2 separate regions of the Homo sapiens genome follow, and region 1 is linked to region 2. The links come from fine-mapping of genetic effects on gene expression. A gene starts in region 2. The other region holds a variant in brackets. All regions are shown on one strand. Distances are between the middles of the regions. Region 1 overlaps CA5A (carbonic anhydrase 5A). Region 2 holds the start of CA5A (carbonic anhydrase 5A).

Region 1 (2,907 bases), 30 kb before region 2:
CTGGCTTTGGCAAGTTCCGTAACCATTCAGAACCTCAGTCTCTTCTTCCGTTAAATGAGAGAGAACTTACAGCGCCTTCCTCGTAGGAGAGGTGTGACTAAACGGGTGGGGCGGCCGACGGTTCTGGTTTGAGCACTGACAGTCCCAGGCCCCAGGAAATCCTTCACATCTGAGCGGCGCGCATGGCTTGTTCACCCCCCACCATAGAGCCGGAGACATGGAAAGTGTGCAGATATGTGCTGTTAGGCCACGTCTACAAACCTCTGCGGGGTACGCGTGGCCGTCCACTGTGTGCTCTGAGCCCCCCTCGTTCACTGCTCCCCAGTGGAAGTGAAATTGCTTCAGTCTGTAGTGGTTTTCCAAGGGCCCACCACTAATTCCTGGAAATAAAGGCAGTGAGACGTGTGTGTCATTTTGTCTGTTTGTTGAGCTGTGGTGTTACCTGAGGCATTGTCTACATTAGGGTTATATGAGTTCACTCGCAAGGGGTTGCTGTATGGTTGAAGTGACAAGCCAAAGGTGGGCTCCGTGAAAGGTGGGCTCTGTCTGTCCCATTCACTCTGCCCCCCCCCAGCCCAGCGCCTGCCCAGAGGTTCACAGTAAATGTGGAATGAAGGCAGGGTCCCAGTGCTGCCACTGGGTGGTGGTGAGGGCCTCAACTCCCTGCAGGCAGAAATCCGTAAAGAACGTTTCTGTGATGCCTGCCTGTCCTATAAGATTTCCAGACTTTAATTAAAAAAAAAGGTGTCTTCCAAATATTTTTTAAAAGCAGCTTAAATCCTATCACCAAATAACATTATAAAATAACACACAATGAGCAAAGTTTTTGTTTTGTCTTGTTTTGTTTTATTTTAAGACAGAATCTTACTCTATTGCCCAGGCTGGAGTACAATGGCATGATCTCAGCTCACTGCAACCTCCACCTCTGGGTTCTAGTGATTCTCCTGCCCCAGCCTCCTGAGTAGCTGGGATTACAGGCATGTGCCACCAGGCCAAGCCAATTTTTGTATTTTAAGTAGAGACGGGGTTTCACCATGTTAGCCAGGCTGGTCTCAAACTCCTGATCTCAGGTGATCCACCCGCCTCTGCCTCCCAAAGCGCTGGGATGACAGGTGTGAGCCACCGCTCCTGGGTGAGCAAGGTCTTTAAATAAGAAGACCCTGAGCTGTAGCATCAGTCCTGATCTCTGGCAGTCCCTGCTTAATCTAGGCCCACCACAGGGCCAGCTTTTATTGGAACACTCCTTCCTTCCTAAGTCACCCTAAACACTCACCTTGGAGTCAGCACTCTCTACCTGCAGGCCTCGGGGTGCCCCTCTCCATGGCACAGTGCCAGGTGC[A/G]GCCTCCCAGGAGCTTGCTTCTCCTGACATGTGGGGCTCAGCCATAAGCATCGCTCGCTGAGGCCTCTGGCTCTGGCCCCCAGAGTCATGGCTGCCATTCCCACGTCCAGGTAGTGCTGGGAGTCTGCCTTTTAACGAGCTCCCCAGGGGTTCGGATGTGGGTGGCTTCTCCTGTGTCTAAGTACTTTGTCACTAACAGATTTCCATCAGCAGCTGCTACAAATGGGGTACCCGTTCCACACGTTTTCACTGAAAGCAGCACAGCGTGCTCCTGGGATGGCTGGGCAAGGCTGGAAGGCGCCAGCAGAACTGGAGCACTGATCCCGAATTCAGGGTGGCCCGAGTGCCTCCCATAGCTGTGGAGGAGCCTCATGTCACCTCCCGCTGTGGCAAAAGCCAGGAAAGCACTGAGCGCGTGATGAATGCCTTGGGGAGCTTGACACTGCTGACTCCTGGTGGTTTCCCGACACCAGAAGTACTTGGGCTGGGCGTGGTGGCTCACACCTGTACTCCTAGCGCTTTGGGAGGCCGAGGCGGGCGGATCACTTGAGGTCAGGAGTTAGAGACCAGCCTGGCCAACGTGGTGTAACCCATCTCTACTGAAAATACAAAAATTAGCTGGGTGTGGTGGCGGGTGCCTGTAATCCCAGCTACTCGGGAGGCTGAGGCAGGAGAATTGCTCGAACCTGGGAGGCGGAGGTTGCAGTGAGCTGAGAACGTGCCACTGTACTCCAGACTGGGCGACGGAGTGAGAATCAGTCTCAAAAAAAAAAGTACTCATAGTTGGAGGCACCAAGGTGTAAACTGGAAAATGGAAAATGGATTTGGCTTTAGTCCAGTCAGGGGCTAGGCAAGTGCTGGACCAAGCCACAGAGCTGCTCACTGCCCCTCTTCACTCAAAATCTCAGTGTTGGTCTGGAGCAACCTCAGAGTCATATCTAGTTTTAAAATTCTACCATTATGAGCAAATCTTCTATTCTCCTTAAACATACACAGATGAATTACATCTCAATTTTTAAAAATACACAGAAAGAGTCCTTCCCACAATAAGCACATAAAATCACTTTGTTAGGCCAGGCACAGTGGCTCACGCCTGTAATCCTAGCACTTTGGGAGGCCAAGGCGGGTGTATCACTTGAGGTCAGGTGTTTGAAACCAGCCTGGCCAACATGATAAAACCTCATCTCTACTAAAAATACACAAAATTAGCCAGGTGTATTGGTGGGTGCCTGTAATCCCAGCTACTTGGGAGGCTGAGGCAGGAGAATCGCTTGAACCTGGCGGGTGGAGGTTGCAGTGAGCCGAGATTGCGCCAATGCACTTCAGCCTGGGCGACAGAGTGAGACTCTGTCTCAAAAACAAAACACAGGCGTGAGCCACCGTGCCTGGCCTCCAAAACACAATCTAAGGAACTTACAGAACCACAAAATGGGAGCACGGTGAGCTCTGTGCTCGCTTCTGCCTCGGCCTGTGTCTGTGGGGGAAAGGGGGTTTGCAGCCGACCAGCCCCAGCAGCATCAAAGTGCATTGATGGGTGACTGAGGGTGGAGCCTCCCAGGGGGTCTGCC
Region 2 (2,907 bases):
ATTAGTTGGGCGTGGTGGCACACGCCTGTAGTCCCAGCTACTTGGGAGGCTGAGTCAAGAGGATCGCTTGAACCCAGGAGGCAGAGGCTGCAGTGAGCCGAGATCGCACCACTGCACTCCAGTCCACAGGTGTGGACCCCAACAGGAGGAATGAGTGTAGCTCACTCAGAGTCTGGGGTGGGCCAGGCTTTCTACACGCATCGTGTCATCCTTCCATGGCCCTGGAGAGAAAGTCTGGCCACCCCCATCTCGAGATAAGGACACAGAGGCTTGGGGGTGAAGACCTGCCGAGGCTCCACCTCAGCAAGCGTCAGTCGGACTGCATGCCTGGGGTCTGGCTCCTAAGCCCATGCTCTTTCAATGGCCCAAACATGGAATGCATGGAAGATTTCAGTTAGAAGAGAACTTGGCAGCTGCCAAAGCAGGCTCTCATTCTACGGAGGAAGCACCTGAGACCCAGAAAGAGGAAGGGCCTCGTTCAAGGTCACAAGGCACTGACCATGAAGCCAGGAGGGGCTGGCACGGGGCAGTTTCTTGGCAGAGCTGGCTGAGTGGTTTATTTGTTACAGGTTTGCTTGAAAGCGTTCTCTGCCGAAGAGTTTAGGAGCGATCGTGACTGGTTAGTGCAGCCCATTCCGCCGGGTCTGGATGGTGAGTCGTGCCAGTGTGTCCCGTGCGAACACGGACTACCCGCCTGCTCCCAGCATCTTGCCCTCCCCAGGACCCCTGAAACGGAGGCTAAATGATTCACCCAAGGTCACCAAATACAAGAGAAACGGAGTGTGGCCAGGCGCGGTGGCTCACGCCTGTAATCCTAGCACTTTGGGAGGCCAAGGTGGGTGGATCACCTGAGGTCAGGAGTTCGAGACCAGCCTGGCCAACATGGTGAAACCCCATCTCTACCAAAATACAAAAAATTAGCTGGGTGCAGTGGCGGGTGCCTGTAGTCCCAGTTACTTTGGAGGCTGAGGCAGGAGAATCACTTGAACCTGGAGGGCAGAGGTTGCAGTGAGCCGAGATCATGCCATTGCACTCTAGCCTGGGCAAAAGAGCAAAACTTCATCAAAAAAAGAAAAAAGAGGGCCGGGCGCCGTGGCTGATGCCTGCAATCCCAGCACTTTGGGAGGCTGAGACAGGCGGATCGCGAGGTTAGGAGTTCGAGACCAACCTGGCTAACACAGTGAAACCCTGTCTCTACTAAAAATACGAAAAATTAGCCAGGAGTGGTGGCATGCACCTATAGTCCCAGCTACTCAGGAAGCTGAGGCAGGAGAATCGCTTGAACCCGGGAAGTGGAGGTTGTGGTGAGCTGAGATCACGCCACTGTACTCCAGCCTGGGCCACAGAGCGAGACGCCATCTTAAAAAAAAAAAAAAAAAAACGGAGTGGAAATCTGAACCCATCTGGCTCGGGACGGTCTCTCCTCTCTCCTCTCGAAAGACCCCATCAGCTAAGACAAGGATCCAGTCGCATCTTAGGAAATTTGAGGCTCTACTTACAAGTGTTATTGCTGGTTTGCCATGCACAGGAACGCTGAGAACACCATCGCCCTGGCCTCATCGAACGACTCCAGAGAGGGGCCCACATCTGCTCAACCAAGAAGGAGAAAGCTGAGGTCTTCCAAGTGTTCCTCCCCAACATCTTGGGTCTGTTCCCACTGACTCCAGTCTGAAGAGGGTGATGTTCCCTGCTGTCTGTTCTCACTTTGATCAGGACCACTGTGGACTGGCGTGTACCCACCTCTTTTTGTAGAAACTCATCCCAACCCCTGAGCCTAATGGTTAAAGTTCAACCCATGCCTTTCCCAACAGGGTGGGTCCACAGGGATTAGTGGCCTCTGCTGGGGACAGGCCACTCAGGTCACTGGGCTTTGATCTGGCAAACAGGAGCACAAGTCTGCCAGGGAGCTAGAAAAACTGTACGGTGGGGCTGCGTGAGCACCAGGGGATTACGCGGGAGGCGGGGGCGAGTGGATGAGAGCAGAGTCCCTGTTTCTTTCATGGGGTTGACCGTGTGGTTTGGGGCTCCGGGACACTCAATACCAGGCACAAAGCCATGGTGTGCATGTGAGGAGGGACTGGCAGGCAGGCTCAGAAGTACAGGAATGGGACTGGCCAAAGCGCTGCTGGGTAGACAGGCCAGGGGAGCAGGGAGCTTCTGTCCACCCACCAGGGCTCCTGAAGTCATGGAGTCCTTGCTTGCCTTAAAATAGGTGCGATTTGATTCATTCATCCTCCCCGGAAGCAAGATGCCCTGTGGCTTCGGACACTTCCAGGTCATGCCTGCTGTCTTGGCATAAACATTAACAGGGCCACCTTTCTTTCTTTCCTTTTCTTTTTTTTTTTAGACAGAGTTTCACTTCTGTTGCCCAGGCTAGAGTGCAATGGCGTGATCTCGGCTCACTGCTACCTCTGCCTCCCAGGTTCAAGCAATTCTCCTGCCTCAGCCTCCTGAGTAGCTGGGATTACAGGCGCCCACCACCATGCCCAGCTAATTTTTTGTATTTTTAGTAGAGATGGGGTTTCACCACGTTGGCCAGGCTGGTGTTGAACTCCTGACCTCAGGTGATCTGCCTGCCTCGGCCTCCCAAAGTGCTGGGATTACAAGTGTGAGCCACTACGCCCAGCCTCTTTTCTTCGTTTCTTTTCTTTTCTTTCTTTCTTTTTTTGAGATGGAGTCTCGCTCTGTTGCCCAGGCTGGAGTGCAATGGCGTGATCCTGCCTCACTGCAACCTTTGCCTCCCAGGTTTAAGCAATTCTCCTGTCTCAGCCTCCTGAGTAGCTGGGATTATAGGCACACACCACCACAACGGCCAATTTTTTGTATTTTTAGTAGAGACGGGGTTTCACTGTGTTCCCCAAGCTGGTCTCGAACTCCTGAGCTCAGGCAATCCACCCACCTCGGCCT

Evidence for each region. PIP is the estimated chance that this variant, and not a neighbour inherited with it, causes the effect.
Region 1: its variant is the best candidate, but not a certain one, in a credible set for the expression of CA5A in anterior cingulate cortex (GTEx, PIP 0.61).

What each region holds. Positions count from the first base shown.
Region 1 is chr16:87,904,525-87,907,431 of GRCh38, forward strand. It overlaps CA5A (carbonic anhydrase 5A), which reads right to left. Exons shown (of 7, transcript NM_001739.2): 3 at 262-380. Among named protein-coding and RNA genes, the nearest start is that of CA5A, 31 kb to the right of the region's middle. The variant A/G (reference allele first, on the strand shown) is at 1,340.
Region 2 is chr16:87,934,810-87,937,716 of GRCh38, forward strand. It overlaps CA5A (carbonic anhydrase 5A), which reads right to left and starts at 1,720. Exons shown (of 7, transcript NM_001739.2): 1 at 1,500-1,720. The coding sequence starts at 1,641.